3 linked regions of the Homo sapiens genome follow. The protein of the gene in region 1 purifies or fractionates together with the protein of each later gene. This does not show direct contact. Each region holds a gene or a part of one and is shown in the gene's direction. Other genes may lie near its edges. The genes, in order: PTPN18, TANGO6 and SDF4.

Region 1 (3,654 bases):
TCAGAGTGAGAATTTTTTATTAATCTATTGCATAGTAATTATTCCCTTATTAGCTATACATCTTTATTTTAAATATTTAGTTGTGGCTTTAGGGTTTACAATATATATCTTTAACTTATAGTCTATAGTCAAATAATATTCTACATTTCATGTAAAATGTCAGAACTTTACTGTAGTATATTTCGATTACCCCTTTCCATGCTTTGTGCTATTGTTACTATATATTATAGTTCTATATATAAAATATACTCCACAGTACACTGCTATTATAGTTGTTTTAGAATATCTTTTTAAACAGCTTTATTGATATACAATTCAGTCATTTAAAGTGTACAGTTCCATCATTTTTCTATATTCCTGAGCTATGCAACTATTACCACAGTAAGATTTTTGTTTTTGTTTTTGTTTTTGTTTTTGAGACGGAGCCTCGCTCTGTCCTCCAGGCTGGAGTGCAATGGCGCGATCTCAGCTCGCTGCAACCTCCGCCTCCCGGGTCCACGCCATTCTCCTGCCTCAGCCTCCCGAGTAGCTAGGACTACAGGCGCCTGCCACCACGCCCGGCTAATTTTTTGTATTTTTAGTAGAGACGGGGTTTCACCGTGTTAGCCAGGATGGTCTCAATCTCCTGACCTCGTGATCCGCCCACCTCAGCCTCCCAAAGTGCTGGGATTACAGGCATGAGCCACCGTGCCCGGCCTACCACAATAAGTTTTTGAACATTTTCATCATTCCATAAAAAAATCCAGGCCAGACATGGTGGCTCATGCCTGTAATCCCAGCACTTTGGGAGGCTGAGACTGGTGGATCACGAGGTCAGGAGATCAAGACCATCCTGGCCAACATAGTGAAACCCCGTCTCTACTAAAAATACAAACATTAGCTGGGCATGGTGGCATGTGCCTGTAATCCCAGCAACTCGGGAGGCTGAGGCAGAAGAATAGCTTGAACCAGGGAGTTGGAGGTTGCAGTGAGCTGAGATTGTGCCACTACACTGCAGCCTGGCCACAGAGCAAGACTGTCTCTCAAAAAAAAAGAAAAAGAAAAGAAATCCTATATCCATTAGCAGTCACTCCCCATTTCCCAGCAACCTCTACAGCCCCAGACAATCCCTAATCTATTTTTGCCTTTATACATTTGCTTACTTTGGACATTTCATATAATTGAATCACATAATATGTAGCCTTTTTTTGCTTAGCATTTTTGTTTTGTTTTGTTTTGTTTGCTGAATACTATTCCATTGAATGGATCTACCACATTTTACTTATTGGTTGACAGAAATTGGGTTCTTTCTACTTTTTGGCTATTATGAACAGTGCTGCTATCAACACTGATATACAAGTCTCTGTGTAGATGTGGGTTTTCATGTCTCTTGGGTATTGCTGGGAATTGCTGGGCTATATGGAAACTCTATTTTTAACATTTTGAGGAAGTGCCAAACTGTTTTCCACAGTGGCAGCATCATTTTACATTTCCACGGCAATGTTTGAGGGTCCCCATTTCTTCTCCCTGATGCTTGTTACTGTCTTTTTTTTTTTTTTAATTATAGCCATCCTAGGGGTTGTGAAGTGGTATGCCATTGTGTCTTTCTTTAAATTATGTGGTAAAATATACATAACATAAAATTTGCCAGTTTATAGGTGCTGTGAGGAATGTTAAAAATAATTTTGCCATTTAAACCATTTCAAGTGTACAATTCAATTGAATTAAGTACATTCACAATGGATTAACCATTCCTACTGTCTATTTTCAGAACATGTTCATCATCCCAAACAGAAATTCTGTATTCATTAAACAATAACTCCCCATTCCCCCATTTCCAGGTAACCTCTATTCTCCTTTCTGTCCCTATGAATTTGCCTATTCTAGGTACCTCATGCAAGTGGAATCAGGAATACACTAATATACAATACTTGTCCTTTTTTCAAGGTTCATCCATGTTGCAGTGTGTATCAGAATTTCACTGTTTTCAAGGCCAAATAATATTTCATTGTATGTATATATCACATTTTGTTTATCCATTCGCCTGTTGGACATCTGGGTTGTTTGTACCTTTTGACTATTGTAAATAAGGCGGCTACAAACATTGGTATACAGGCTGGACACAGTGGCTCACGCCTGTAATCCCAGCACTTTGGGAGGCCGAAGCAGGCAGATCACGAGGTCAGGAGATCGAGACCAGCCTGGCTAACACGATGAAATCCCACCTCTACTAAAAATACAAAAAATTAGCCAGGCGTGGTGGCAGCCGCCTGTAGTCCCAGCTACTCGGGAGGCTGAGGCAAGAGAATGGTGTGAACCCATGAGGCGGAGCTTGCAGTGAGCCGAGATCGCACCACCGCACTCCAGCCTGGGCGACAGAGCGAGACTCCGTCTCAAAACAACAACAACAACAACAACAAAAAATTGGTATACTAGTATCTGTTTGAATCCCTGTTTTCAGTTCCCTGGGTATACACCTAGCATGGAATTGCTGGATCATATGATAACGCTATGTTCAACATTTTGTTTTCCACAGTGGCTGTACCATTTTACGTTCCCATCAGCAGAGAGAGAGAGAGGGAGGGAGGGACATGTGTAGTTTAATGACAGGGATATGGTCTGCATTGTTAAGACTATCTTGTCATTGTGTAAACATCATAGAGTATACTTACACAAACATAGATAGTATATACATTTTTTATTTATATATTTTTCATATGGAAAACCAAATGTCCCAGCACCATTACTGAGTATCAATCATTTCCCCAACTTAATATGCAGTGTCAATATCAAGTGCCATGTATCAGGTTTCTACATATGCTCCATTATAATCTATGGCACCACCATTGTATATGTGGTCTGTTGTTAACCAAAACATCATTATGTGGCATATGACAATGACATATATGCCATCCTAATGAGTGGGAAGTGGTACCTCATTGTGGTTTTGGTTTTCATGTGCTTATTCGTCCATTTGTATATCTTCTCTGGCCAAATGTCTATTCATGTCATTTATTCATTTTAAAATTGGGCTATTTGGGGTTGTCTTTTTATTATTGAGTTGTAAGCGTTATTCTGTATATAAGTCCCTTATCAGTACATGATTTAAAATGTCTTTCCCATTCTGTGGGTTGTCATTCCACTTTCTTGATGGTGTGTTTTGAAGCACAAACATTTTGTGAAACTTTAATTCCAATCTATTGTGTTGCTGTGCTTTTGGTGTATCTGAGAAGTCATTGTCTAATCAGAGGTCATAAAGACTTACTCCTGTTCTTCCTTCTAAGTGTTTTATAGTTTTCTTGCTTACAGTTAGGTCTCAGATTTACTTTGAATGAACTTTTGTATGTGATGTGAGATAGGGGTCCACATTCACTCTTTTGCATGTGACTATCCAGTTGTTCCAGCACCATTTGTTGAAAAGACTATGCTTTGCCCATTGAACCGTCTTGGCCCCTTTGTTGAAAATTAATTGGCCATAAATATAAGGGTTTATTTCTGAACTCTCAATTTTATTAAGCTGATTGATGTGTTTATCCTTGTGCCAGTGTAACATAGTTTTGATTATTATACCTTTGTAGAAGTTCTGAAATCAGGAAGTATGAGTCTTCCAAATTTGTTCTTTTTTCCAAGATTGTTTTGGCTATTTTGGGTAGGTCCCCTGCTGTGCAGAAGAGT
Region 2 (3,654 bases), on another chromosome or scaffold:
GAAGGGGAGAGAGGGACGAGCCGCTGAAATCTGTTGCATGCTGGTGAGGCGAATTGGTTGAGTCAGTTCCTGTGCTACAATGCTGTCCTTTCTCTTCTTCACCGAGCCCAATTTGGGTGCTCTATAGAACTGCTTGGGAAAATTCCCATTATTTCAAGCTGTTATATAGAACTCCAAAGAGCAGACAATCCTTCTTAATTGCTGTTGCTTTCAAGCAGCCTCATTTAGAGATGTCTTACTTTCTGCCATATTTAATAAACCTGCCACAGTAGGTACTTAATTAACAGTTTTTGAATGGATGGATAAATGGAAGGAAGAAAGAATAAAAGGAAGAAAGGAAAGGTGATGTCTAATGAAGGAGGCATGATTTGTTTTGTTTTGTTTTGTTTTGTTTTGTTTTGTTTTGTTTTTTCAAAAGGGCATGAGCTCAAAAAGTTGAAAAACACTGCCCTCACCCATAGTGAGCAACCTCCAGATCTGGGCACACCCATGGGAGTGTTGTGAATGTTAGTCATGTGTTATCAGGGGCAAAGGAGAGCCATGCTTCTTGTTTTCACAGGCTTTCACTTGATTATCCTCTAGGTAATCCAGTCTTTTATCAGAATTTCCCTAGAGTGGAGAGGCATCCTTCAACTGCTTGTATGCAGGTGATCAAACTGGCTAAAAAAGCCCTTACTTGCAAACCACAGTGCCTCCAATTTTACAACTTAAAAAGAAAATGACTTTCCAGTTAACTAAGCTGACTAGTTCTCTCTAATTCTTTTGCTTTTGAGATTAAACCATCTATTTCTGGAATTGTCTTCATTGTGCTCATTTATACACATCGTTAAAGATTTTCAGAGCTTTGGCCAGGTGCCAGTGGCTCACGCCTATAATCCCAGTGCTTTGGGAGGCCGAGGCAGGAGGATCACCTGAGGTCAGGAGTTCCAGACCAGATCAGCTACTCGGGAGGCTGAGGCAGGAGAATTGCTTGAACCCAAGAGGCAGAAGTTGCAGTGAGCTGAGATCACACCATTGCACTCCAGCCTGGGCAACAAGAGTGAAACTCCCTCTCAAAAAAAAAAGGCTCCTCAGCTGGGCACGGTGGCTCATGCCTGTAATCCCAGCACTTTGGGAGGCTGAGGTGGGAAGATCACCTGAGGTCAGGAGTTCGAGACCAGCCTGGCCAAAATGGCAAAACCCCATCTCTACTAAAAATATAAAAAAATTAGCCGGGTATGGTGGCGGGCACCTGTCATCCCAGCTACTTGAAAGGCTGAGGCAGGAGGATCGCTTGAACGTGGGAGGCGGAGGATGCAGTGAGCTGAGATCATGCCATTGCACTCCAGCCTGGGTGACAAGAGCAAAATTCCGTCTCAAAAAAAAGAAAACAGAAACAAACTCCTCACATAGCTGCTGCCACCCAGTGCATTTCCCTGGACAACCCCAGGGGCTAGATGTTCAATGAGTAAATACCCCCATACAGGTTGTGGGCACCTGGTTGTCCAGCCCGAGGCCAGGGATCCCAGGTCACACCCTTGATCAGGGAGGGATCAAGGTGCTTCTGCCATGCCCAGGATTGAGAACTCTGTGGATGCAAAGAGGGGTGGGTGGGAAGCCTGGTGTGGTGGCTCACGCCTGTAATCCCAGCATTTTGGGAGGCTGAGGTGGGCGGATCACATGAGGTCAGGAGTTTGAGGCCAGCCCCGGCAACATGGCAAAACCCTGACTCTACTAAAAATACAAAAATTAGCCAGGCATGGTGGCCGCACCTGGAGTCCCAGCTACTCAAGAGGCTGAGGTGGGGGAATCGCTTGAACCTGGGAGGTGGAGGTTGCAGTGAGCCAAGATTGTGCCATTGCACTCCAGCCTGAGCAATAGAGCAAGACTCTGTCTCAAAAAAAAGAAAAAATTGCAATTCCCTAATGACTTATGACATTGAGTATGTCTTCCTATGCTTATTTGCCATCTGTATATCTTCTTTGGTAGGGTATTCTTCTTTGGTAGACCTATCTGTTAAGGTCTTTTGCCCATTTTTAAGTCAGGTTGTTCATTTTCTTATTGAGTTTAAAGAGTTCTTTGTATATTTTGGATATTAGTCCTTTTTCAGATATGTCTTTTACAAATATTTTCTCTCATTCTGTAGTTTGTCTTCTCATTCTCTTGACAGTTTCTTTTGCAGAGCAGACATTCTTAATTTTAATAAGGTCCAGGTTTTTAACTATTTCTTTCATAGATCATGCCTTTGCTGTTGTATTTAAAAGGTCATTGCTTTTAAGAGGTCATCTCAATTTTCTACTATGTTAACTTGTAGGAGTTTTATAGTTTTGTATTTGACAGTTAGGTTTATGATCCATTTCAAGTTAATTTTTGTGCAAGGTGCAAGGTCTGTGTCTAGATTCATTTTTTCACATGTGCATGCCAGTTGTTCCAGCACCATTTGTTGAAAAAACTGTCTTTTCTACTGACACTTGTTCCAATTAAAAAAAAAAAAAAGAAAAAAGAAACTGTATTTTTTTTTCCATTTAAAGCCTTTGCTCCTTTGTCAAAGTTCAGTTGACTCTATTTATCTGGGTCTATTTCTGGCCTTTCTGTTCTGTCCCATTGATCTATTTGTCTTGGCTGGTTTTTTTTTTTAGAAGAAATTGTTATATAGAAGAGAAATTAAAAAAGAGGCCAAATAGACTGTAGGTAAATTATTCTCATTTTAGATGCTTTAAAAAAGTCCATGATACAACCGAGGCACTGAATGAAGTTTAGCATAATGATAATACTAGTATAATTATTTGAAAATGTCTCGGCCGGGCACCGTGGCTCATGCCTGTAATTCCAGCACTTTGGAAGGCCAAGGTGGGCGGATCACCTGAGGTCCGGAGTTCAAGACCAGCCTGGCCAACATGGTGAAACCCCGTTTCTACTAAACTATAAAAAATTAGCCAGGCATGGTGGCGTGTGCCTGTAGTCCCAGCTACTCGGGAGGCTGAGGCAGGAGAATGGCGTGAACCCGGGAGGTGGAGGTTGCAGTGAGCCGAGATTACGCCATTGCACTCCAGCCTAGGCAGCAGAGCGAGACTCCGTTTCCAAAAAGAAAAGAAAAAAATAAAAATAAAAAGGATTTTTTTTTCTTTTTTTTGAGACAGAGTCTCGCTCTGTTGCCCAAGCTGGAGGGCAGTGGCGTGATCTCAGCTCACTGCAACCTCTGCCTCCCGGGTTTAAGCGATTCTCCTGCCTCAGCCTTCCGAGTAGCTGGGACTACAGGCACATGCCACCATGCCCAGCTGATTTTTGTATTTTTAGTAGAGGTGGGGTTTCGCCATGTTGGCCAGTAAAAAGGACTTAAGATCCTTAAGGTATTCAAATTTTCAGGGTCTCCTGAAGCCTCATCTGATAATTTCTCCAGTGTTTTCAAACAGAAAAGTATTACCATTGATTCTTACTTTTCATTGATCACACATACACCTTTTGGGTGGCAGTGGGTGAGGGGGGTGCTTTCCAGTGAAGACCAGAAAACCTGCTAGACAAATTCTAATAGAGCTGTAACACTCATGCACCTTTCTTAGTAGTAAGGCATATGACATTATTCAGACAAAGCTTCCATGGAGAATAAAATGTTATATAATTTTCACTTCCACTTTCCAGAAGAAATCCCTTTCTTCCCGTTTTCTCTGTGATCCC
Region 3 (2,939 bases), on another chromosome or scaffold:
ATCTTACACCTTTATTTTTTGTGCCTGCTTAACTTATCAGTAACACACATTTCCTCACCAGAGTCTCAAGGCAAACCACCTCTTCTTTCTTTTTTCATGAGACGGTCTCACTCTGCTACCCAGCCTGCAGTGCAGTGGTGCAGTCTCGGCTCCCTGCAGCTGTACCTTCCAGGGCTCAGGCGATCCTCCTACCTCAGAAGCTGGGACCACAGGCACCATCACCGCGCCTGGCTAATTTTTGTATTTTTTGTACGGATAGATTCTGCCGTGTTGGCCGGGTTGGTCTCAAACTCTTGGACTTAAGTCATCCGCCTACTGCAGTCTCCCAAAGTGCTGGGATTATAGGCGTGAGCCACTGCGCCTAGTCTTAGCCTCTTTCTTTTTTTAATTTTTAATTTTTAATTGTTTAAGAGTGAGGGCCTCACTGTTGCCCAGGCTGGAGTGCAGTGGTGCGATCTCAGCTCACCTGTAGCCTCCACATCCTGGGCTCAATCTATCCTCCTTGGAGGACAGAAAAATAAAGGTGTAAGATACGTTCCTGCCAGGAACGGCCCATATCATGTGACCAGCCCCCATGGGGGCGGCCTCCTGAGTGACTGGGACCACCAGTGTGTGCCACCATGCCCAGCTGATTCAAAAACATATATTTTGTAGACACAAGGTCTCCCCATGTTGCCTAGGTAGGTCTCAAACTCTTGGATTTCAGAGGGTTCAAGTGACCCGCTCGGCCTCCCCCCGTCCTGGGGTTGCAGGCGCGAGTGACCCGCCTGCCTTGGCCTCTCCCCATCCTGGGGTTGCAGGCATGAGCCCCTGTGCCTGGCCTTGACCTTCTAGAATGACGCGGAGACTTTTGAGCCTGTTGGCTCTGCCTGCTCTTTTCCCAGTTCACGTACTCTTATCTGGAGTTTGGTCCTGTCCGTTCTAAATCCTGCAAATTGGACATTAAAAAAACTAAAAGTAAGAGGATCTCCCTGTGTTGCCCAGGCTGGTCTCAAAGTCCTGGGCTAAAGGGATCTGCCTGCCGCAGCCTCCCAGCATGCCGGGATTACAGGCACAAGCCCCAGTGCCCGGCCAAATTGGACGTTATTACTTCCTTTCCAAAAGAGTGGTTTACATTTTCCTCCCCACACACGGTTCGTGCCTCCACCCCGGTCCCGCGTTCCCTGCTGTCCTGACTGCGTCTTTAAGCTTCATCCCGTTGGTCCGGCCTGTTGGCGATGTGCTTGGGGCAGGAGGCCTTGCCCGTGCCCGCCCCCCAACTCTGATTGTGTCTGTCTTTCCTTGGTGCCACTTTATTTGGGTCTTTTCTGCCCAGGACATGGCCCACCTGGACCTAGAGCTCTGTGACATTTCTGTGAAGCCTCCGTCTACCTTTGGGACTCAGCAGAGGTGTGTTTAGAATTCACTCTGCGTTTTGGGGGTCCCCATGCATGCTGAGGTGCTGTTCCCTGCCCACCCGTGTCCGATCCGTCTTGGCCTCCCCGACCTCAGGGTGCCTAGGACCCCCCGACCTCTTTGGGTATTTGGTTTCTGGCTCAGGAAGAGCAGCTGCCGGGTCCTGGAGGAGGGGCCTGGGAAGCGCTGGCAGGCGTCACTCCTGCGACCTCCCACCCCTCCCTGCATGGCTCCTGCGAGGGTCACCGCGTGAGTCCGGGGGCTGCTGTCCTCGCGCCTCAGACCTGATTCTGGGGACCGCGGTGAAGGCGTGGCAGGCGGGCATCACTCCCTTCCCCCGCCTCCATCGCTGCCTCTCTCTGGGTCTGCGTCCTCTTCTCACAGGGACAGCAGTCGTTGACTCTCCCTGATCCAGGAGGGTCTCTCCAGATCCTTCCCTAACAGCAGAGGCCCGGCTCGTGGGGAGGGACTGGGACTCAAGGCTTCTTCACCAGCCTGAGGTTGGTGCTGGGGCTCGGCGGCGGCTGTGAGAATCCTGTGCTGGAGAAAGCGTCTCTCGGCCGGCCTGTCTGGGGCGTCTGTGCCTCTCCTGGATGGGTCTCAGTTTGGCCCCGTCCATCCATCCCAGGAGCTGCGGTGGAGCAGACAGGGAGGGGTGCCCCAGGAACCACAGCCCCGTCACTCCTGTCTTCCTTTAAGTGAACCGGTCGTGTAGATGGAGGTTGTTCAGAAAGGGATAAGATGGGACGGCAGCTGGGCCTCATCCCGCAGTGAGCGCGACGCAGAGGCTGCCGGGCTTGTGGCAGGGGCTTCGGCCAGGGCAGAGTCGGGCCTCACGTGCAGGGGGCTGAGTGTGGGCCTCAACACTGGACTTGGCCACTGACTGCAGTGAGCCCCAAGATGGGGCAGGAGGTGGTGTTTCTGTCCTGGAGACCCAGGGTGGCTTGGGTCCTTGGGATGTGTGGGGACCTCGGGGTGAGGGCCCGTTGGGGCCGGGTGGGCACGGCAGGAGAGCGGGGGCCACACACCCAGAGGCAGTGCCGTGTCCCGGCTGGGAGGGTTCCTGGGAAGCTCTGCTCAGCCCCAGTCTCAGTCATTTCTAGAAACTGTGTTTTCCTCCCTGTGACGTCACACGTGAAGGAAACGGAAAAGGGCAGTGAGTCCTTCGCCCCGCGGCGCCGTGCGCACGTCAGCCTTCAGGGTGATTCCGCTCCTCCAGAGGGGCAGGCGCGGGTGTGGGGGGTGGGGCCCAGGCCCATCCTGAGGGGTCCCAGGCATGAGGGGCTCTGAGCTGTGTCCTGGGGTGGTCTGGGCCATGGGGAGGTTCTGGATCATGTCTTGAGAGGTCTGGGCTGTGTGGGGGGTCCAGGCCATGTCCTGGGGGTCTGGGCTGTGTCTGTGGGGAGTCAGGGCCATCCATGTATTGGGGGTCTGGGGCAGGGGGGGGTCCAGGCTGTCTTGGGGAGTCCGGGCTGTGTGGAGGGGTCCAAGCTATGCCTTTGGGGATCAGGCCTGTGGGAGGCTCTGGGTTATGTCTTGGCGGG

What was found.
Region 2: the proteins of PTPN18 (region 1) and TANGO6 purify together in Homo sapiens (affinity purification with mass spectrometry; one large-scale study listed by BioGRID and IntAct). This does not show direct contact.
Region 3: the proteins of PTPN18 (region 1) and SDF4 purify together in Homo sapiens (affinity purification with mass spectrometry; one large-scale study listed by BioGRID and IntAct). This does not show direct contact.

What each region holds. Positions count from the first base shown.
Region 1 is NC_000002.12:130,362,422-130,366,075, forward strand, and holds part of PTPN18 (tyrosine-protein phosphatase non-receptor type 18), read left to right. Parts: intron 1-3,654. UniProt on the Homo sapiens protein: Differentially dephosphorylate autophosphorylated tyrosine kinases which are known to be overexpressed in tumor tissues.
Region 2 is NC_000016.10:68,923,434-68,927,087, forward strand, and holds part of TANGO6 (transport and Golgi organization protein 6 homolog), read left to right. Parts: intron 1-3,654.
Region 3 is NC_000001.11:1,219,107-1,222,045, reverse strand, and holds part of SDF4 (45 kDa calcium-binding protein isoform 2 precursor), read left to right. Parts: intron 1-1,315; coding exon of another isoform or gene 1,316-1,347; exon of another isoform or gene 1,348-2,939. UniProt on the Homo sapiens protein: May regulate calcium-dependent activities in the endoplasmic reticulum lumen or post-ER compartment. Isoform 5 may be involved in the exocytosis of zymogens by pancreatic acini.